Homo sapiens: one gene and its partners. The protein of the gene in region 3 interacts with the protein of the main gene of each other region in a pairwise test. Each region holds a gene or a part of one and is shown on either strand. Other genes may lie near its edges. The genes, in order: SNX4, FARS2, DGAT2L6 and TTPA.

Region 1 (7,649 bases), on a different chromosome or scaffold from region 3:
ACTGATTTCAATGCCAGGTGAACCTAGATTCAAATCCCAGCCATGCTACTGACTAGCTTGTGACCATGGTCAAATTACTTCTCTATGAGCCTCTGGCTGGTTCCATTTACCCATCTATTGGAAGTAATTTTGGGAATTAAATGAAAAGTAGAGCCCCACTGTGCACAGCACACGCAAAACTAACTTACTTTTCTGGTGAGACCAAATTCCTATCAGTAACAGCTACAATGAGGCCATAAAAACATTACAGTAATTTTCAACTGAAGACAGACTGAGTGAGAGAGAGTATGGAGAGAAGTGAAGGGATGTGAAGACCTTCAAAGGACGGGTTTTTAGTTTGATTTTCTCTTTGAGGGGAGAGGAGGGGAAGGGGAAGGAATGCACTGAATGTATGTTTGTTTAAACACCTAGTAATTCTGAAATATTTGCCCAAATGGCTTGTGCCTCTTTATGAATTACTAAATTAGGGAGTTGTTTTAAGAAACCACATAGGCCGAGGGCAGTGGCTCATGTCTGTAATCCCAGCACTTTAGGAGGCTGAGGCAGGCGGATCGCCTGAGGTCAGGAGTTCGAGACCAGCCTGGCGAACATGATGAAACCCCAACTCTACTAAAAACACAAAAATTAGCTGGGCATGGTGGCACACACCTGTAATCCCAGCTACTCAGGAGGCTGAGGCATGAGAATCGCTTGAGCCTGGGAGGCAGAGGTCTGCAGTGACCCGAGATCACGCCACTGCACTCCAGCCTGGGTGACAGGTCAAGAGACTGCTCAAAAAAAAAGAATAAAAATGTCAGGAAGTAGTATGTAACTACAACTTATACTGCATGATAGCATCCCTGGGTTTTCAAATATTTAGAACTACATATACATAGTGTTCTTTCAATTAATAAAAGACATATATAATGCCTTTTAAATTAACATAAACAGATTTTATATTCTAGTTGCAATTTCATATTAATTAAATACCTAATGGCAGGGTGTGGTGGTGTGTACCTGTAACCCCAGCTACTCAGAAGGCTGAGGCAGGAGGACAGCTTGAACCCAAAAGTTCAAGGCAAGTCTGGGCAACACAGAGATACCTCATCTTTACAAAAAAAACCCCAAAACTTAGCCAGGTGTGGTGGCATGCATCTGTAGTCCCAGCTACTCAGGAGGCTGAGGCAGGAGGCTCGCTTGAGGCCAGGAGGTCAAGGTTGCAGTGAGCCATGATTGTGCCACTGCACTCCAGCCTGGGAGACAGAGTGAGAACCTGTCTCAAAGAAAAAAAAAGCACATCCAAAAAAGTCTTCATGCTACCTTATATACCCAGGTATGTTCCACAGCAGGCAAAACTTTCAAATCCTGAAGTCCCTGCTTAGCTGGTCTCTAAACTTAAAAGTCTTTCAGGCCGGGCACCATGGCTCACACCTATAATCCCAGCACTATTGTGAGGCCCAGGTGGGCATGAGCCCAGGAGTTGCAGACCAGCCTGGGTAACATGGTGAAAACCCATCTCTACAAAAAATACAAAAATTTGGCTGGGCATGATGGCTCACGCCTGTAATCCCAGCACCTTGGGAGGCCGAGGAGGGTGGATCACTAGAAGTCAGAAGTTCGAGACCAGCCTGACCAACATGGCAAAACTCCATCCTTACTAAAAACTAAAAAAAAAAAAAAATTTAGCTGGGAGTGGTGGCGCCCATCTGTAACCCCAGCTACTCAGGTAGCTGAGGGATGAGAATCGCCTGAACCTGGGAGGCAGAGGTTGCAGTGAGCCGAGATCGTGCCACTGCATTCCAGCCTGGGTGACAAAGACTATGTCTCAAAATAAATAAATAAATAAATTAATTAATTAATTTAGCCGTGCGTGGTGGTGTGTGCCTGTAGTCCTAGCTACTCAGGAGGCTGAGGCAGGAGGATTGTTTGAGCCTGGGGGGTCGAGGGTGAAGTGAGCTGTGTGAGCAATGCACACAAAAGGAGACTTTGGGCAGGGTGGTCTGATGTGGAGCACTGCAGTTAGTTTCTTAAAGGTTTCAATATAAGCAGGTCTACAAATCTTGAATTGTATATGCAAACACTTTGTAATGAAAGCACTTACAAATATAAGATGATACATTTTTCCCCTTTTCCTCAAGCAAATGAAAATCACTAATTACTAAAGGGTCTTCAAAAAGTACATGGGTTATCAATAAGTCTCCAATGGGAAACACAGCACTTCCCCCAAAACAAAGAAATTACAGCCAAATGAGGAGTCTAAAAAATGTTTTCTCATTTGTACCTTTTCTTGAAGCTGACATTTTCTTCAATTTCCTGATGGCAGCACCAGGCCAACCACCCTTATTGGCCCTGACCTGCACCTCACTCTAGTCCCCCATTCCCTTCCTTCTCAAGCACTGTTGCCCACTCCCCACTGTGTCCCTTTAAGCTACTCCCCAGCAAAACCCCTTAGCAACTGGCTGAAACATCAGCGTTCTTCTCACGGTCCAGATCTCCCAGCTACGCGACCACTGAAAACCCCCTCCTCCAGCCTCGCCCATCCGGGGCCCAGACCCCCACGCCTGCGGGGGCGCCCCCCCGGGTCCCTTTCCCTCCCCTTCGCAGTCTCGACACTTCCCTCAGTCACCCGCAGCGCCTGGCGCTCGCCCCACACCCAGCACCCTGTTTTTCCACTGAGCCTCCTCTCACTGCACCTGCGGACCCCGCCTTTCCACCTCGCTCCCCCTCACTGCTGGGCCTCCTCGGCCGAGCCCACTGGCCCGGCCCGGCCCAGCCCAGCCCAGCCCAGCCCAGCCCGGCCCGCTAGGCCACCACACAGGCCATGAGGGCTCTGCCGCCCCTTCTCCTCACCGTGTCGACCCCAGAGCTCTCTTCTCCGGCCCCCTCCGCTTCCTTGCCGACCGCAGCCCCCAGCCCAGCGTCTGGGGAGCCCAGCGGCTCCAAGGGCGCCGGCTGGAGCTGCCGCTCGGGGTCCGGAGGTGCCTGCTCCATGGCTGCAGTTCGGCGCGGCGAACCCAGTGCGCCTGCGCCGCCGCCGCGCCCGCGGCCAACCAGTCTCTCAGCTAGCGACGCCCGCCCCTCCGCTAGCCATCGCCTCGCCCCTCTTGTCAACCTAGAGGGCTCCCGGAGCTGCAGCTGGAGGCGGAACCGGGGGTGGGAGGACACGCAAGCCCGCGGAGGACCTGGTCAGCTGCTTAAGCCAGGAGACCCAGGAAGCAGGGGCAGCTGGTGAAGAGAGAGACAAAGAGAAAGGCAAGGGGAAAGTGAACACTTGAAGTAGGCACGGCGATCCTAAAGCCAACGAAACTCAAAAGAAATTGGAGGCGTAGTCTGACCTGCTCCTTCTGGGCCTCTGCCTTGCCAGTTATTATTGGGTCTGTTTTCTCCCGGAAAGATCAGAGCTCTATAAATTGTTAACTTTCAGCAGGTTGAGTAACACATTCAGCAAAAGGTAATACTTGCAAGTTTTTTTTTTTTCTTTTTGAGACGGAGTTTCCCTCTTGTTGCCCAGGCTGGCGTGCAGTGGCGCGATCTCAGGTCACCGCAACCTCCGTCTCCCAGGTTCAAGCGATCCTCCTGTCTCAGCCTCCGGAGTAGCTGGGATTACAGGCGCCCGCCACCACGCCCGGCTAATTTTTATTTATTTATTTATTTATTTATTTTGTATTTTTAGTAGAGACGGGGTTTCACCATTTTGGCCAGCCTGGTCTGCAACTCCTGACCTTGTGATCCGCTCACCTCGGCCTACCAAAGTGCTGGGATTACAGGCGTGAGCCACTGCGCCTGGCCTTTGCAAGGTTTTGAGGAAAGTGAAGCGTTCTGTTGAAGCAGGGCTTGAGTTCTGTTGTAAGTGTTTCATGAAGCCCTGGAGACCTCTGATAATTTTCTACAAACATCCCTTTTTAAAATTTTCCAAACCTGCTTCCTTGACAAGCTTTCACTATGGCAACCGGATGGGAAATGCTCACTGGTGGTAACAGATTGTGGTACCTTGAAGTACTTTCTATACAAAGTCGGGTCTCAATTTTTCAAGTACAGAAACATTTTTCTGCCCACTTAGTTATTTCAAGCTGTAACACACAATTTTCTCTTCCTGGAATGCTTTATCTGTCCTGGGAGCAAATTTTCATTCATTCCTAAAACCTCAGCTCATTTATAATCTTCAAGTGCTAAGTTGTTCATAAATCTGTTATGGGCTGGGCACGGTGGCTCACGCCTGTAATCCCAACACTGGGAGGCCAAGGCCGGCGGATCGCCTGAGGTCAGGAGTTTGAGACCAGCCTGGCCAACATGGTGAAACCCCGTCTTTACTAAAAAAATTTGCTGGACGTGGTGGCGGGCGCCTGTAACCCCAGCTACTCAGGAGGCTGAGACAGGAGAATCACTTGAACCCGGGAGGCGGAGGTTGATCTCAGTGAGCCGAGCTCGTGGCACCGCACTGCAGCCTGGGCAACAGAGCAAAACTCCGTCTCATAAAAAAATAGATTTTAAAATCAGGGCAGAATGGATCTGATGGTTATTTCCCCCTATTTTATATACACATAATACATGTTAATTGTGGGAAAATTAGAAAAGTTGAGCATTAAAAAATTAAAAGCCACAAGTTAAGCGTGAGAAAAAAAGAAAAATAATAAAATAAAAAATGGTTCTTGGCCGGGAGTCTCAGGCCTGTAATCCCAGCACTTTGGGAGAGGCCCAGGTGGGCAGATCACTGGAGGCCAAGAGTTCGAGACCAGCCTGGACAATACGGTGAACCCCGTCTCTACTAAAATACAAAAAATTAGCCGAGCATGGTGTTGTGTGCCTGTGGTCCCAGCTGCTTGGGAGGCTGAGGCAGGAAGAATCGCCTGAACCTGGGAGGTGGGAGGTTGCAGTGAATTGAGCAACAGAGTGAGACTCTTGTCTCAAAAAAAAGAGAAAAACAAGGCCGGGCACGGTGGCGCAAGCCTGTAATCCCAGCACTTTGGGAGGCCGAGGTGGGCAGATCATTTGAGGTCAGGAGTTTGAGACCAGCCTGGCCAACATGGTGAAACCCCGTCTCTACTAAAAATACAAAAATCAGCCGGGCATAGTGGCATGCACCTGTAATCCTAGCTACTGCAGAGGCTAGGGCAGGAGAATCGCTTGAACCCAGGAGGCCGAGGTTGCAGTAAGCCGAGATCATGCCACTGCACTCCAGCCTGGGTGACAGAGCAAGACTCCGTCTCAAAAATAAATAAATAAATAAATAAGGGTTCTTTTGGCCGGGCTCGGTGGCTCATGCCTGTGATCGCAGCACTTTTGAAGGCCAAGATAGGCAGATTGCTCGAAATCAAGAGTTCCTAGCAGACCACAGACTGGTACCAGCCCACAGCATGGGGGTTGGGGACCCCTGCACTAGATAATATGCCTTATTCTTGGGGCTGTCTATAGGCTAACAAATTATTTTTGATAAAGAGATAGCAACTAGTGGTTATGTAAAAAGCCTGAGGTGGGAGGGTAGCTGGCATTTTGAATTTTTTTAATGGGTCCATGTTTGGGACACCCTGCCCAATGGCCAGAATCATGATAGCTGCAGTTTTTTTATGTGCTTGGCACTTCACATATTAATACTTTTTCATGCAGTGCCCCTCCCTGCAAGACAGGCATTATACAAGCTGGGCATGGTGACATGTGCCTGTATCCCAACTACTCAGTAGGCTGAGGTGGGAAGATCGCTTGAGTCCAGGAGTTTGAGGTTGCAGTGATCCATGATAGGACCACTGCACTCCAGCCTAGGGAACAGAATGAGACTGACTCTTAAAAAAAAAAAAAAATCCCAGCACTTTGGGAAGCCGAAGTGATTGCTTGAGCCCAGGAGTTCGAGACCAGGCTGGGCAACATAGTCAGACCCTGTCTCTACAAGAGATACGAAAAGTAGCCAGATGGGGTGGCATGCCCCTGTAGTCCCAGCTACTTGGGAGGCTAAAGTGGGAGGATCCCTTGAGCCCAGGAGGTCAAAGCTGCAGTGAGCAGAGACTGTGCCATTGCACTCCAGCTGGGTGACAGAGAGAGACTCTGTCTCAAAACAAACAACAAACAAACAAACAAAAAAGACATTATTTTCCCCATTTCACCAATGAAGCAGGCTCAGTAATATTTGACAAAGTCACACAGCCATTAAATAAGGGAAAGATATTCAAACCCAGATTTGTAGGACACCCAGAACCCAAGCTCTTGGGCCATGCTGCTTCTCTTCATGGGGGAGAGGAAGAAGAGAGATTCTTCTAGAGAAGATGCAAATAATTTGCGGAAATTGAGAATTGATTCCTTATGTGAACACACACAAAGAAAAACAGGTTTCCTTGGCATATGAAGGCAAAGTCACACCTGTGTGCTGAGGTCTGGGAAAGCCCAAGGCTAACTCCATGGAGATTATGGAAATAGATATTCCCCCTTCTTCTGACTCTGGAAGGGAAGGAATTCCCCCTCACAGCCCTCACTGGGGGAGAGCCTGCGGTGACCTGCTCTGGAGTGAATGGGAAAGCCTCAGGAGCAGGAGTGACTAGCCAGGCAGAAGGTACTTCAGTCCCTTGCATGTCAACAGCATGTTTTAGATTTCAATTTGTCATTAATTTAACATTTTTTGAGCTCCCATGTTAGCCTGGGAACACCAAGAAATATCTATTCTCTGGTCCCCATCGTCCAGGTTCTGTTCTCCCTCTTCCCAGGATTTTCCTCCTGGTGCCTGGCCAGCCTCCCAGGGACTGTGACAGTCACTTTTGTCTCCTTCCTCTGAAACTATCCCCTTCTTCTCAGCAGCAATCAAACCCAAACCCCACCCCATTTCTCCTTTCAGTGTCAGTGTGGATGACATTTGCCCTTGGTCACAGCACAGGATCTTTCTTCCCACCCTCCTATCAGTACCACCATATTCTTTTGGAGCAAATTCCTCATTGTGTGAGGACTTGTGTGGGGAGCAATTTTTAATATGTACCTCTATTGTAGCCTCTCATCATAGGAGTTGAGGAGCCCAGATCCTTCTTGTACCACCTCTGGGAAGATTATTTCAACTCACCAATTCAGACCCTTAAACTCCCAAGAGTTTGAATCTTGGGTCGGAGGGAATGCTGGAGGTTGAGCCTGTGGCAGTGCTAGGGCCAGGTTTTTGCCAAGTCGAATTTCCTGTGTGTTCTGTGCCAAGTGTCTGGAGCTACCTTGATTCTGCAACTTTCTACAGAATCACCAGCCTTAATTCTGTGAATTCCTGTCCTATTTCTCTATTTGCTTTATATGACTAGAGTTCATCTTTGTTCTTTTTTCTTTTTTCTTAAGAGACAGGGTCTCACTCTGCCACCCAGGCTCGAGTGCAGTGCCATGAACATAGCTCACTGCAGCCTCAACCTCCTGGGTTCAAGCTATCCTTCCACTTCAACCTCCCATGTAGCTGGGATTATAGGCCCGTGCCACCATGTGCAGCTATTTTTTTTGTAGAAATGGGGTTCTACTATGTTTTCAAGACTAGTCTTGAACTCCTGGGCTCAAGGGATCCTCCCACGTGGACTTCCCGAAGTCCTGGGATTACAGGCATGAGGCACAGCACCTGGCCCTGGTCTCTGTTCTATGCAACCTAGAGCTGTAACGGCTGCAGTAAAGCACTCATCTACTCAACTAAACATGCAGTAAATATTTATGAAACATCTACTCTGTCC
Region 2 (3,745 bases), on a different chromosome or scaffold from region 3:
AATGCTCTGTATAAGTTGTTTGAATCCCAAGAATCCTTATAGAGGCCTTTTTCTGAGCACATAGAAATAGGAAAACAGATTTTTCCCCATCCATCTTCAATTGGCAATAACTTTTAGAGGTGCCATATTACCAGCTCTTCTGCTAGGAGGGACCAGAGTGAAACAGTGAAAAAACACAATGTGATAATAATTGCCACAATGATACTTTCACCTCACACCCAATTAGCACTTTATAATTTGCAGAGTCCTGTCAATTTCTAAACAGGCCCTGATTTCTCCATATCTTCTCCAATACTTGTTATTTTCCTTTTGTTTTTAAAATGAGCATCCTAATGGGCCTGAAGTGGTATCTCATGGTGGTTTTGATTTGCATTTCCCTGATGGCTGAAGTTGAACATTTTTTCATGTGCTTGTTGGCCATTTGTTTATCTTTGCAGAAATGTCTATTCAGATCTTTGGTACATTTGTTTTACTATGTTGTTGGCTATTTTATCGTTGAGTTGTAAGAGTTCTTTGTATATTCTAGATACAAATCCCTTATCAGGTATATGACTTGCAAATATCTTCTCCCATTCTGTGTGTTCCTTTTTGACTTTCTTGATTGTATGCCTTGAATTAAAAAAAATGCCTAATTTTGATGAATTCCAAGTTTATCATTTTTTTTAATTTTTTCACCTGTGCTTTTGGTGTCATCTAAGGAGGTTTTGCCTATGCGGTCATGAATATTTACTCATCTGTTTTCTTCTAAGAGTGATAATAGTTTCAGCTCTTATATTGAGATATATGATATATTTTGAGTTAGTTTGTGTGTGTGTGGTGTGAGGTAGGGATTCAGCTTCATTCTTTTGCATGTGGATATCCAGTTGTCTCAGTATCAATTGTTGAAAAGACATTTCCCCCTTGGATAGTCTTGGTGCTCTTGTCAAAAACCAAATAACTGTAAATGGAGCAATTGTAGTTTGAATGGAATGGGTCAGCACTTGGTGGCAGCAGGGGTCTTGGCTATGTAGTTTCATAAGCTCCCACTCCTGGAGAGCCTCTGTTTTCCTCTCAAAGCCAGGTTTTTCTGTCTCGCTGCGTTTTGGTGCCTGAAAGGCTTGGGTGGGCATGGTACCTGGAGTACTGTTGTTCGGAGCACAAAGTGAGGAGAAAAGACCACTCTACTTTGTGGGAGGTCCTTGGGGCAGTTTGGGCAGCAGTGCCTCCCCCAGGAGTCAGGGTCCCCACCCCAGAGGAATGTCCACAGAGCAGAGCCATTGGCCTGAGCTGGACTGAAAAAGAAAGAGCCAGGTGGGGAGAGGATTTGATTTCTCCCTTGGTCTAAAGCAGGCAGCTGACATTGGGTGAGGGAATGGGGCAGGCCTCCATGTGCTATCGGGAATCCCCAGGAGGTCCCTACAGAAAACTTCCACCCCCAGCCCAGCTTGTTTATCACAGCCCTTCAGTGGTAACTTCCTCCTGTGGCTTGATCCAAACGGGGGCTGCATATGTGGCCAAAATGCACATAACCCTGTGAGGCACAGCATAGCAGCTTATCTTCCCTGAAAGTGGAAGGACAAAAGCAGGACAAAGATGACCAAGCCAGGGTGGGAGAGAGGGGAGGAGACACTGGAAGGGGAGGTGAAGGGGCAGACTAGGGAGGCCAGGACCAAGGCAGACTCTCATGCACCAGGCATATTCTGCCCAGCCAAGGGCTCTGGCATTCAGATGAGGGAGAGGGAGAGGAAAGAGGAGAGAATCCAGTGAGACCAATCCATGAAGTGTCGGGAGGACCCTGGAAGCAAAGGCTCTGGACTCAGGTGGCATCAATGGGACTACCAGTTTCCAGTGAATATGTGGGAGTGGCCTAGGTCCAGCTCAATCAGAAGCCCATTTGTTCAAGGCCCTGGTATTACTGAAGGCCCAGCCCTGTCTCACCTGCCAGAAAGCACGTGGCCTCTCCCTGGCTAGGCTAAGGGCTGGTTGACGGCATCATAAAAGGAATCTGCCTGGGAGCCCTCAATTTGTTTCAGTTTCCTCCCCCAAGGCCAAGAAGGGATTGGGTTGCCTCTGTTGTTGTTGCTGCTGCTGCTGCTGCTGCTGCTGCTGGGGGTTGGAAAAGAGGAATTTGTGTGACCAGATCCCCTTATTGTATAGAAGAAGAGAAATGTGAGCATTCAGAGATGGTGAGATGTCAGACACCCAGCCACACAGCCAGTGAGAGACATGTTGGGGACAGGGCCAGGCCTGCCAGTTCATGGCCCAGGGGTCTTTCTCATGAGATCAACTGACCAGTGTGTCTTAGCACCTGCCATGCAAATAGAAGGCCCTACTGCTGTCATCTCCACGTATTCCAGAATTACTCAGCTGTTCTATGCAAGCCAAGTCAACACCAATGTCATAAAGGAGAGACTAAAGTAATTCTCTACACAGCACATACACGGCATATATGGCCTGTATGCTTCCTGGACAGCCAACAGGGGTGCCGAGGGAGTGAGTCCCTCAGCCTTGCCTGGAGCCTTGCTGATACTTCAGTTTGCCTCACAAACACGGTTACCTTCCATGACATGAAGGAGGCACACGCGGGTTGACCCCTGACCCTGTCTGCTTGTTAGAATCACGTCGGGAACCGGGGACAGGCTTAGAAGCCCAGGTCCCACCTCCCACCTGCTGAATCCAAATCTCCAGAGCGTGGCCTGGGAAATCAAATTTGTCAGCTTCCTTCCCAGGGGACTTTGATACATCCACCCCAGTGGAAACCAGCAGCCTCCTTTAGTCAAGCGAATGTTTCCCTGACTGTCACCTTCTCCCCCTGTATAAGATGCAGATTGTTAGCGGTAAATGGTACCTGGATTCCAACCTCAGTTCTCCACTGCAGTTGGGGAGATCTGGCCAGGGCAAGCCACACTGCTCCTTCAGGCACAGCCTTGTTCATCCCGCACTCACCTGTGTTCTCTTCCTCTCTGTAGGACGCACAAGACCAGCCACTGCTACCGCATCACGTACCGCCACATGGAACGGACTCTGTCCCAGAGAGAGGTCAGGCACATCCACCAGGCCTTGCAGGAGGCTGCAGTCCAGCTGTTGGGTGTGGAGGGCAGGTTCTGATGTCACCACTTCACTCAGGCTGCAGCCCTCTTGGGGCTCCAGGATTTGCTGAAAGAGAAAAAGATATGGTTTGTGAACTGGGGCATCAATCATCTTTTGATAAATGGATCAGTTTTAGGACTTTCAGAAAATAAAAGATCGCTCTTGAAAAGCTGTTGACATAGCATTTGTCTTTTATTTGGGGAAAGGAGGAAGGTCTTTTCCTATTCCTTTTAGAAGTGCTTTGCCCACTGGCATTGGTGCTTAGTATGGTTAATTGGTCCCTGGGTTCCATTAAGCACCAGGCATGATTTCTTGCCTGACAGGCTCTTCCACTCAGGTAATGAGTGAAGCCACACAGAGGGACATCAGAAATTCCAGATACAATACAGGAAGCTTTTTGAATCAGCTTCCATTCCTTCCTCCCTTCTCTTCTTTTTCAGTTTTGCAAAGGGCAGGCTTCAAAGAGGGCACTAATGAAATGCCAGGGCTCTCGTCCAATGTGAAGGGAGGTGCGTCTTTCAGCCAGGGCAGGATATCTATTTGCTTTTCATAAACCCATGGCTTGGAGTCAGGCCTCTGGCCCCAGGACTTGGGCTTAGCTGCCTTCTGCCCCACTGGAGAGGAAGGAAAGGGGCGAGAGCTGCCCCAGAGTCTTGGAGGCACACAGAGGGGCCAG
Region 3 (4,896 bases):
TATTTTCCCTGAGGCCTAATATAGGACCACTGTGAGTAGAATCCATGCCATTTTTGCCCACACTTATGAACTAATTTTGGTGGAGTGCCATGGGGCCTCATTTAGGAAAATGAAGCTGAAAAGTGGGTCTCCAGAAAATGAGGAATGGGGACATAGAGTGGTGCATTGGAGAGAACTCTGGTTTGAATGCTAGTTCTATCCAAAGTTGTGTGGCTTTGGGCAAGCTACTAACCCTCTAGGAGCTTTAGCTACTGTGAAATGGAGGTGATGACAATCTCAATCTCACTGGGCTTATGTTTAGTATTGAGAGACAATGGTTATGAAAGCAATGTCATGGTCCCTGGAACATAGAAGGGACTTGACATCAAGCAAACTTACAGTTGGTGCATGGTCTTGTGGCTCCCTCCCTTCTGACATAGGATGGTTATGTGGGATCAGGAGAGGTGGGCTACACAGCGGGTACCTGTGCCAGTTCCCATGTTTCTGCTCCTGTCTCTTACACTTTGCAGCAGCTATGGTTCCATTCCCCCACCTTTTCTGTCCGGGGAAGTATGAAGGGTAAATAAAGAAGAGGAAAAGGGCTCTCCATAGAGCAGCTTTCTGGCCAGAAGGGAAAATCTTAGGTTTGAGGGAAGCCCAATAGCGAACCACAGAATAATCAGGAAATAGTGGTATCCTGTTTTATATGTCTAGAACTTTATTTTCAAAGAAGAAACAATGTAACTGCATTGCCAATCTAGAACTCTATCACAACTGACGGAATCCTGTCTGCTTGGACCAGGCAGCTACAGTTCAGGTCCCTGGTTTACCTTGTGGCAGTTCCCAAGTTGTAAGGAAAGGACCAAGAGGAAACAAACTATCCCTGTTCCAAATAAAGCTTCTAAGTCTAAACCTACGTAGTGATGGTGAACTAAGGTTTAGGAGAAAGGGGCACAGTATTCTTTGTGATCAGAGAGTTGGCTGGAATGATTCATAAGACTCCCCAACTGGGTTGTTGCCCTAAAATAACCAGGGGTGATACAGCCAACTCCTCTGGCTAGCCAGCCCTCCCCAGTCCTCCCCTGCCCCTCTGGTTCTTTCCCCTAAGCCTGCCTCAGCCACTTGGGAGAGGACTCTATTGCTAGAACTCTGATTTATTAAATAATTTCTGGCTTGGATGGTCTCCTCTCTCATCCTTACGATCTTTCCCTCTCCTGGAATTCTTCTTTTTCTGTGGCTCTACTTGGATCCCTCATGGCTTTGGGGGTTGATCAATGGGGAATGTGGCTCCTGTTATGTAATTGTCAGCTCTTGGGTCTCAGGGAGGCCATATTCAACTTTGTGTTGGTCAAAGAGCTTGCGCAGGGCACTGATGTAGAGTGCGTGATACTTGTCTACTGTCTTCTGGTTTGGCCTCTTAATCCTGGGAATTGGAAGGGGTTCCCCAACTATGAAAAAAGAAAAGAGACAAACATCAGAGTTCCCCCCTCAACTCAAACTACTCATCCCTCACTGGGAGCCATGTACTGAAACTCAGTATCTGGCTTTCCTCCCCTTCTTTCTTTCTTTCCCTTTGCTCCAGTCTCATCCTGGCCCCTGTTCTCTGATCATCTAATCAAACCCATGCTCAAGAGAATGCAAGCAAGCTCAGGAGAGTGGTGACAGAATGTGTGCGAATGGTGATGCTCTTGTAGCAGATGCTGATGTCACATCCATGAATGGCCACAACTCTTATCTGTTTAGTTGTCCTACCCACCCTGCTCTTAACCACACCCATTGCCCATCCCAGATGTGAGTTGGGTCCCCCTGGACTTGATGGATGATTTAAAGTGGGTGGGAAGTGAATGAAGAAACAGGTCATCCGGAGATAAGGGAAAGCTCACCAACAGTGGTAATGGGCCGATTGAAAGGCAGGAAGCCCCAGGATCCGCGAGTGAAGCCCCGGCCATGGAAGGTACAGAAATTTAGTCCCAGGATTTTTTTGAATGTGTCCTGGAAGGTTTTTTGGAACAACCTTAACCACGTGCCCTCAGGGAAGGTCTCCTGATTGAAAACTTCGTTCTCACCAAAGGAATATGAAGGGACAAGGTATGCCCTGCAAAGAGAGGGGCAGGAGTGTGAGCTCTCTGAGGAAGATCCCCGGAAAAATCCTCTCCAAGGTGGGAAACCTCTCCAACCTCCCCATTATAGGACAAGAACCCAAGCACCCAAACATCTCCATCTTCATGTCCCATTCCTGCCATGCCTCACTCTCCCAACTGAACTCTGAAGGGAGCTGCTGCTCTGCCTTGTCCTGTTATAGGGAGAAACTAATCTCAAAAGCTCTGTCTTCATTGCATCCAGCATGCAGAGTGTTCTTCGTAAACTGCATATCTGGACATGCCACTCCTCTCAAACTCTTCCAGAGCTCCTCAGTTTGCACCATGCTGCTTCCTTACGGCCTTTTTGCTCTAGCCTTCCCTCCTTGGCTAGCTTTCCCTTTCCCCACTCTTTCCTTGCAATCTGCTTAGCCATATTAAGTGTGCCTCATACTCTCTCATCTCTGTGTCTTTGTACATTCTGCTCCCTCTGTCGGAAGTATCTTCCTTCTTCCCTCTGTCTTTATGTGGCTCATTCAATTTTGCACTCAGTCCCAATCTCATCCCCTTAAAGCAACTTTGTTTGACCACTTCATTTCCCCCAACGCGGATTAGGTACCCCTCATCTAGTGCTTACCTCTCTTCTACACTAACGCTGCCCCAACCGTGTATTATAGTCATCTCCTTACTTGCCTGACTCCCCCAGTAGACAGCAAGCCAATCAAAGGCAAGAACTGGGTCATATTCATCTTTGAATCCCTAGGCCCTGGCATAGCACTTGACATGCCATAGGTCCTCACTGAATGCCTGAGTTCTTTCTCCCTTTTGGTCTGCCTGGCAACTCCTACCAATATTTCAATTCACAGTTCAGATGTTACCCACCTATGAAACCTCTATTCTGGGTCAAGATCTTTCCATAAATTGGTGCTCACGTGGCACTTTGTACACATTTCCATTGTAGTGTTCCATTTATTTAACAAATATTAAGCTCTTTCTATGTGCCAGCACTGTTTTAGGCCCTGGAGATGCATCAGTGAATACAATGGATTTTTAAAAATTCTGTGTTCGTGGAGTTTACTTTTTCTGGGAGGAAGACAGACAATAAACATTGAAAATAGTTGGTAAACAAATAAATAAAATGGATGAGCTATAAGAAGATAAGTGTAACCGGCAAAAAATAGAGCAAGATGGTCAGATAACTGTATTGAGAAGAGACATTTGAGCAAAGACTTGAAGGAGATAAAGGAATGAGCCAAGCAGTCATTTGGAGGAATAGTGTTCCAAGGGAACCGCTAAAGCAAAGACTCTAAAGCAGGAGCGGGTGGCCTGCTTGAGGGACCGCAAAGAGGCCGGTATAGCTATGATGGAGTGAGAGAGTGGGAAGAGAAGTGAGTGATGAGGACAGAGAGGCAGCTATAGACCAGATTATTCCGCGTCTTGCAAGCCCCTATAAAGACTTTGGCTTTTACTCTGAGTGACATGGGAGCCATTGGATTATTTTGAGAAGTGACATGATCTGACTCATGTTTAACAGGATCATCCTGGCTGAAGCTGGGAATAGACTCTTGGGGTGGGGGAGGTGGGAATAGATACAGGAAGAGCAGTTAGAAGTGTTGTAATCAACCAAGGGGAGAGATGGTGGTAGTAAACCAAGGGGTGGTAGCCTAGGTAGTAAGTGGTTGGATTCTGCAGGTATTTGGTAATTATATGTGCATGGGTCTGTCTTCTTCCATATTGGACTGTGAGTTTGCAAGGACCAGGTCTTATTTACTTTTATATCCTAAATGCCTAGTACTATGCCTGATATACAGTGGGTGTTCCGTAACTGCTGAATGAATAAGGTCTATTTCTCAAACCAGATTGTATGCTCTTTGGGGTCATGTCTTATCTTTTTGATCCTCACGGTATCAAAGCTAGTGCCTCCCTTGCAGTTGGTAGATTCTTAGGGCCTCTCAGTTAACAGGTTGATATAGAGTGAAGCCCCGCTTTCCCAGACCTCCAGCCTACCAGGCCAATGGGCAGAAAGTAAAAGGTTTTCTTCTGCTGTTCTTTCTCCAACTTCAAGTAAGAAAAGTGCCCACTGAAATGTATCTGGAGGCCCAAACATCCCTAAGGCACAATGTGAGGGGGTAGACAGAAGGAATTAGAGTGAAGATGGGGGCCCTCTAACAGGTGCCCAGGGAGGGCACCATTCTGGAGAGGGCTACAGAGGGCCTATGGCACCCTGACAACAGAGCACTAGAACCTTGGAACCCACCCTGTTTGCAGTGCCATCTTCACAAAACCTTTACGCTGCTTGAGGAAGAGAGTGGAGGCTCCTGGTCGGCACAAGAGAGCTTCAGCAGCTCCACCCACCACAATAACCACGGCATTGCCTGAGCCTTTCTGGGTCAGCAAGTACTTCAAGGCTGAGCTACTCACAGGGCACACACCTGTGAAACCAAAGAGTCAAGTGGTAGAAAAACTTCATTCCTGAGGATGGGGTAAGGGGTTTTCCCAGGCTCTTCCTTTTGGAGACAGTTCTTCTGTTTTCTGACTATTGCTGTTTCCACCTTTCTGTCTCTGACCTTCGTGTCCCGGGTTATGACTGCCCTAGCCTAAGATTGGTCCTTAGGGTCAGCTGTTTGCCTTGGGGGTCTGTGCTTCTGCAGTTGGGTCTATACTGAGCTCCTCTGCCTCCTACCATCCATAGCCTACTGCATTTCAGATCAATAGTATCTAAGCCCACCTCATCCCTCTCTACCCATGAAGCACAGCCATCTTCCACTCTGCCCAGCCTGACAACACTGGAGATCCTCCAGAGTTCTCTCCTCCAGGGGTAATCGAGACTAGCCACCAC
Region 4 (7,174 bases), on a different chromosome or scaffold from region 3:
TTAAATATAAGAGGCAAGTGCAGTGTATTTGACAGCGCAGGCTCTCTCCTGAGCCCAACCCAAATTCAAATCCCTGCTTCAACACTTAATGGCTACATAATTTCAGACAAGTTACTTACTCTTTATATCTGTTTCTTCTAAAATGAGAAAATAATAAAAGATAATCCATGAAAACCCTACTTACCAAAGTATGTTGCATTCTATAAGCACATTAGCTATTAGGATTATATAATAAAACCTTATTAATTCATCATAACTTCAAATACAAACACTAGAATAATGAGAAATTTCATTGTGACTGAGGCACTTATCAAGCTTTCTTTATACAAAAACTATAGGGCTTCTATATTATGAATGAAGAAGTTAGAGTTGAATTAAGTGCTATTGCAGAGGAAAATGAAAAAAAGTTTTGCACTCTTACCCTTTCCTTTTCCTTTCCAGTTGGCAGAAAAGCAAGACAAAGAGTTCACAGACAGAAACTTGATTTCTATGCGGTGGATTTAGACACAGTCCTGCTAGCCAATTCCTCAAGGGCATGGTACAATGAAAACAATTCCTTATTTAAGGAATACAGAAAAAAATATATTATGTCCCAGAGGCTGATGGTCAATTTTATTTTTCTATTTAAACATTACTTTTTTTAAAGCAGCTAAAATGAAATTAGTAAATGAAACATGTTTTATTGTTAGTTATCTCTATACATATATATGTTTAATGCCTCATTTAAGCTTCATTCTTCATAGGACCTGAGATTGTGTTTTCATATTCAGTAGTTACTAAGTACATATTAGTTTATTACTCATGATATTGGGATACTTATATAGCCATCTAAAAAATGAAAATAAATAAAGTTGGATTCCTATTTTACTCCTAACATAAAAACAAATCTCAATAGATCAAAGACCCCAACATAAAAAAGAGAAGACACAAATAACTAGAAAAAATTTTGGACAAGAGAAGAGATTATAAAACCCAGAGGCAATCAAAGACTAATAAAATCAATTCATTTGATTACATTAAAATTTAAAATTCTGCACAGAAAAAAATAGTATAAGTAATGTAACAGATAAAAATCAAGGACAAAGGCCTAAAATATATAAAAAGGCCTAAAATACATAAAAATATTTTATAAATCAGTAAAACATAAAAATGGGATCCATTCCAAGATGGCCGAATAGGAACAGCTCCAGTCTGCAACTCCCAGTGTGATCGATGCAGAAGATGGGTGATTTCTGCGTTTCCAACTGAGGTACCTGGTTCATCTCACTGGGACTGGTTGGACAGTGGGTGCAGCCCATGGAGGGTGGGCTGAAGCAAGGCGGGGCATTGCCTCACCCAGGAAGTGCAAAGGGTTGGGGGATTTCCCTTTCCTAGCCAAGGGAAGCCATGACGGATGTACCGGGAAAAACAGGACACTTCCACCCAAATACTGCACTTTTCCCAAGGTCTTAGCAACTGGCACACAAGGAGATTCTCTCCTGTGCATGGCTTGGCGGGTCCAACACCCATGGAGCCTTGCTCACTGCTAGCGTGGCAGTCTGAGATCTAACTTCAAGGCGGCAGCCTGGCTGGGGGAGGGGCATCTGCCATTGCTGAGGCTTGAGTAGGTAAACAAAGTGGGCCAAAAGCTCGAACTGGGTGGAGCCCACTGCAGCACAGCAAGGCCTACAGCCTCCATAGACTCCACCTCTGTGGGCAGGGCATAGCTGAACAAAAGGCAGCAGACAGCTTCTGCAGACTTAAACGTCCCTGTCTGACAGTTCTGAAGAGCACAGTGGTTCTCCCAGCATGGCATTTCTGCTCTGAGAATGGACAGACTGCCTCCTCAAGTGGGTCCTTGACCCCCATATAGCCTAACTGGGAGACACCTCCCAGTAGGGGCCGACAGACACCTCATATAGGCAGGTGACACTCTGGGACGAAGCTTCCAGAGGAAGGATCAGGCAGCAATATTTGCCGTTCTGCAATATTCACTGTTCTGCAGCCTTCGCTGGTGACACCCAGGCAAACAGGGTCTGGAATGGACCTCCAGCAAACTCCAACAGACCTGCAGCTGAGAGACCTGACTGTTAGAAGGAAAACTAACAAACAGACAGGAATAGCGCCAACATCAACAAAAAGAACATCCACACCAAAACCCCATGTGTAGGTCATGAACGTCAAAGACCAAAGGTGGATAAAACCACAAAGATGGGGAGAAACCAGAGCAGAAAAGCTGAAAATTCTAAAAACCAGAGCGCCTCTTCTCCTCCAAAGGATCACAGCTCCTCACCAGCAATAGAACAAAGCTGGATGGAGAATGACTTTGATGAGTTGACAGAAGTAGGCTTCACAAGGTCAGTAATAACAAACTTGTCTGAGCTAAAGGAGCATGTTCAAACCCAACACAAGGAAGCTAAAATCCTTGAAAAAAGGTTAAACGAATGGCAAACTAGAATAAACAGTGTAGAGAAGACCTTAAATGACCGGATGGAACTGAAAAGCCTGGCACAAGAACTTTGTGATGCACGCACAAGCTTCAGTAGCTGATTCCATCAAGTGGAAAGAAGGGTATCAGTGATTAAAGATCAAATTAATAAAATAAAGCGAGAAGACAAGGTTAGAGAAAAAAGAGTAAAAAGAAATGAACAAAGCCTCCAAGAAATATGGGCCTATGTGAAAAGACCAAATCTACTTTTGATAGGTGTACCTGAAAGTGATGGGGAGAGTGGAACCAGTTGGAAAACACTCTTCAGGATATTATCCAGGAGAACTTCCCCAACCTAGCAAGTCAGGCCAACAATCAAATTCAGGAAATACAGAGAACACCACAAAGATACTCCTCGAGAAGAGCAACCCCAAGACACATAATTGTCAGATTCACCAAGGTTGAAATGAAGGAAGAAATGTTAAGGGCAGCCAGAGAGAAAAGTCGGGTTACCCACAAAGGGAAGCCCATCAGACTAACAGCAGATCTCTCAGTAGAAACCCTACAAACCAGAAGAGAGTAGGGGGCCAACATTCAACATTCTTAAAGAAAAGAATTTTCAACACAGAATTTCATATCCAGCCAAACTAAGCTTCATAAGTGAAGGAGAAATAAAATTCTTTACAGACAAGCTGAGAGATTTTGTCACCACCAGGCCTGCCTTACAAGAGCTCCTGAAAGAAGCATTAAACATGGAAAGGAACAACTGGTACCAGCCACTGCAAAAACATGCCAAATTGTAAAGACCATCAATGCTATGAAGCAACTGCATCAATTAATGGGCAAAATAACCAGCTAACATCATAATGACTGGATCAAATTCACACATAACAATATTAACCTTAAATGTAAATGGGCTAAATGTCCCAATTAAAAGATACAGAGTGGCAAATTGAATAAAGAGTCAAGACCCATCAGATGTCTATAGCACATCTCACATGCAGAGACACATATAGGCTCAAAATAAAGGAATGGAGGAATATCTACCAAGCAAATGGAAAGCAAAAAAAAAGCAGGGGTTGCAATCCTAGTCTCTGATAAAACAGACTTTAAACCAACAAAGATCAAAAGAGACAAAGAAGGTCATTATATAATGGTAAAGGGATCAATTCAACAAGAAGAGCTAACTATCCTAAATACACCCAATACAGGAGCACCCAGATTCTTAAAGCAAGTCCTTAGAGACCTACAAAGAGACTTAGACTCCCACACAATAATAATGGGAGACTTTAACACCCCACTGTCAATATTAGACAGATCAATGAGACAGAAGGTTAACGAGGATATCCAGGACTTGAACTCAGCTCTGCACCAAGCAGACCTAACAGACATCTACAGCGCTCTCCACCCCAAATCAACAGAATATACATTCTTCTCAGCACCACATCACACTCATTCTAAAATTGACCACATAATTGGAAGTAAAGCACTCCTTAGCAAATGTAAAAGAAAAGAAATCACAACAAACTGTCTCTCAGACCACAGCGCAATCAAATTAGAACTCAGGATTAAGAAACTCACTCAAAACCGCACAACTACATGGAAACTGAACCACCTGCTCCTGAATGACTACTGGGTAAATAATGAAATGAAGGCAGAAATAAAGATGTTCTTTGAAACCAATGAGAACAAAGACACAACATACCAGAATCTCTGGGACACATTTAAAGTAGTGTGTAGAGGGAAATTTATAGCACTAAATGCCCACAAGAGAAAGCAGGAAGGATCTCAAATCGACACCCTAACACCACAATTAAAAGAAATAGAGAAGCAAGAGCAAACAAATTCAAAAGCTAGCAGAAGATAAGAAACAACTAAGATCACAGCAGAACTGAAAGAGATAGAGATACAAAAAACCCTTTGAAAAATCAATGAATCTAGAAGCTGGTTTTTTGAAACGATCAACAAAATTGATAGACTGCTAGCAAGACTAATAAAGAAGGCCGGGCATGGTGGCTCACGCCTGTAATCCCAGCACTTTGGGAGGCCAAGGCAGGCGGATCACGACGTCGGGAGATCAAGACCATCCTAGCTAACACGGTGAAACCCCGTCTCTACTAAAAATACAGAAAAATTAGCTGGGCGTGGTGGCGGGCGTCTGTAGTCCCAGCTACTGGGAGGCTGAGGTGGGAGAATGGCGTGAACCCAGGAGGCAGAGCTTGCAGTGAGCCGAATCATGCCACTGCACTCCAGCCTGGGTGACAGAGCGAGACTCCGTATCAAAAAAAAAAAAAAAATAAATAATAATAATAATAAAGAAGAAAAGAGAGAAGAATCAAGTAATCAAATAGACACAAAAAAATGATAAAGGGGATATCACCACCGATCCCACAAAATACAAACTGCCATCAGAGAATACTATAAACACCTCTATGCAAATAAACTGGAAAATCTAGAAGAAATGGATAAATTCCTGGACACATACACCCTCCCAAGACTAAACCAGGAAGAAGTTGAATCTCTGAATAGACCAATAACAGGCTCTGAAATTGAGGCAATAATTAATAGCCTACCAACCAAAAAAAAAAAACAGACCGATTAACAGACAAATTCTAACAGAGGTACAAAAAGGAGCTGGTACCATTCCTTCTGAAACTATTCCAATCAATAGAAAAAGAGGGGATCCTCACAAACTCATTTTATGAGGCCAGCATCATCCTGATATCAAAGCCTGGCAGAGACACAACAAAAAAAGAGAATTTTAGATGAATATCCCTGATGAACATCGATGCAAAAATCCTCAATAAAATACTGGCAAACCGAATCCAGCAGCACATCAAAAAGCTTATCCACCAAGATCAAGTTGGCTTCATCCCTGGAATGCAAGCCTGGTTCAACATACACAAATCAATAAATGTAATCCATCAGATAAACAGAATCAATGACAAAAACCACATGATTATCTCAATAGATGCAGAAAAGGCCTTTGACAAAATTCAACAGCCCTTCATGCTAAAGACTGTCAAAAAACTAGATATTTATGGAACGTATCTCAAAATAATAAGAGGTATTTATGACAGACCCACAGTCAGTATCATACTGAATGGGCCAAAACTGGAAGCATTCCCTTTGAAAACCGGCACAGGACAAGGATGCCCTCTCTCACCATTCCCATTCAACATAGTGTTGGAAATCCTGGCCACGGCAATCAGGCAAGAGAAAGAAATAAAGGGTATTCAATTAGGAAATGGGAAGTCAAATTGTCCCTGTTTGCAGAAGACATGACTGTAAATTTAGAAAACCCCATCGTCTCAACCCAAAATCTCCTTAAGCTGATAAGCAACTTCAGCAAAGTCTCAGGATACAAAATCAATGTGCAAAAATCGCAAGCATTCCTATACACCAATAACGGACAAACAGAGAACTAAATCATGAGTGAACTCCCATTCACAATTGCTACAAACAGAATAAAATACCTAGGAATCCAACTTACAAGGAATGTGAAGGACCTCTTCAAGGAGAACTACAAACCACTGCTCAACAAAATAAAAGAGGACACAAACAAATGGAAGAACATTCCATGCTCATGGGTAGGAAGAATCAATATCATGAAAATGGCCATACTGCCCAAGGTAATTTATAGATTCAATGCCATCCCCATCAAGCTACCAATGACTTTCTTCACAGAACTGGAAAAAACTACTTTAAAGTTCATATTGAACCAAAAAAGAGCCCACATTGCCAAGACAATCCTAAGCAGAAAGAACAAAGCTGGAGGCATCATGCTACCTGACTTCAAACTACGCTACAAGGCTACAGTAACCAAAACAGCATGGTACTGGTACCAAAAGAGATATATAGACCAATGGAACAGAACAGAGGCCTCAGAAATAACACCACACATCTACAACCATCTCATCTTTGACAAATCTGACAAAAACAAAAAATGGGGAAAGGATTCCCTATTTAATAAATGGCGCTGGGAAAACTGGCTAGCCATATGTAGAAAGCTGAAACTGGATCCCTTCCTTACATCTTATACAAAAATTAATTCAAGATGGATTAAAGACTTAAATGTTAGACCTAAAACCATAAAAACCCTAGAAGAAAACCTATGCAATACCATTCAGGCCATAGGTGTGGGCAAGGACTTCATGACTAAAACACCAAAAGCAATGGCAACAAAAGCCAAAACTGAGAAACGGGATCTAATTAAACTAAAGAGCTTCTGCATGGCAAAAGAAACTAGCATCAGAATGAAGAGGCAACCTACAGAATGGGAGAAAATTTTTGCAATCTACCCATCTGACAAAGGGCTAATATCCAGAATGTGCAAGGAACTTAAACAAATTTACAAGAAAAACAACCCCATCAAAAAGTGGGTGAAGGATATGAACAGACACTTCTCAAAAGAAGACATTTATGCAGCCAACGGATACATGTAAAAATGCTCATCATCACTGGTCATCAGAGAAATGCAAATCAAAACCACAATGAGATACTATCTCACGCCAGTTAGAATGGTGATCATTGAAAAGTCAGGAAACGACAGGTGCTGGAGAAGATGTGGAGAAATAAGAATGCTTTTACACTGTTAGTGGGAGTGTAAATTAGTTCAACCACTGTGGAAGACAGTGTGGTGATTCCTCAAGGATCTAGAACTAGAAATACCATTTGACCCAGCAATCCCATTACTGGGTATATACCCAAAGGATTATAAATCATGCTGCTATAAAGACACATGCACACGTATGTTTACTGCGGCAC

Evidence for each region.
Region 1: the proteins of DGAT2L6 (region 3) and SNX4 interact in binary tests that used the Homo sapiens proteins (3 or more experiments, as listed by UniProt).
Region 2: the proteins of DGAT2L6 (region 3) and FARS2 interact in binary tests that used the Homo sapiens proteins (3 or more experiments, as listed by UniProt).
Region 4: the proteins of DGAT2L6 (region 3) and TTPA interact in binary tests that used the Homo sapiens proteins (3 or more experiments, as listed by UniProt).

The regions. Positions count from the first base shown.
Region 1 is NC_000003.12:125,517,203-125,524,851, forward strand, and holds the start of SNX4 (sorting nexin-4), read right to left. Parts: upstream 3,001-7,649; 5' UTR 2,971-3,000; coding exon 2,830-2,970; intron 1-2,829. UniProt on the Homo sapiens protein: Involved in the regulation of endocytosis and in several stages of intracellular trafficking. Plays a role in recycling endocytosed transferrin receptor and prevent its degradation.
Region 2 is NC_000006.12:5,768,343-5,772,087, forward strand, and holds the end of FARS2 (phenylalanine--tRNA ligase, mitochondrial), read left to right. Parts: intron 1-2,948; coding exon 2,949-3,087; 3' UTR 3,088-3,241; downstream 3,242-3,745. UniProt on the Homo sapiens protein: Is responsible for the charging of tRNA(Phe) with phenylalanine in mitochondrial translation.
Region 3 is NC_000023.11:70,201,483-70,206,378, reverse strand, and holds the end of DGAT2L6 (diacylglycerol O-acyltransferase 2-like protein 6), read right to left. Parts: intron 4,490-4,896; coding exon 4,315-4,489; intron 2,075-4,314; coding exon 1,863-2,074; intron 1,428-1,862; coding exon 1,273-1,427; 3' UTR 675-1,272; downstream 1-674. UniProt on the Homo sapiens protein: Diglyceride acyltransferase that uses fatty acyl-CoA as substrate. Particularly active with oleate as a substrate. Has no wax synthase activity to produce wax esters.
Region 4 is NC_000008.11:63,076,032-63,083,205, forward strand, and holds part of TTPA (alpha-tocopherol transfer protein), read right to left. Parts: intron 557-7,174; exon of another isoform or gene 422-556; intron 1-421.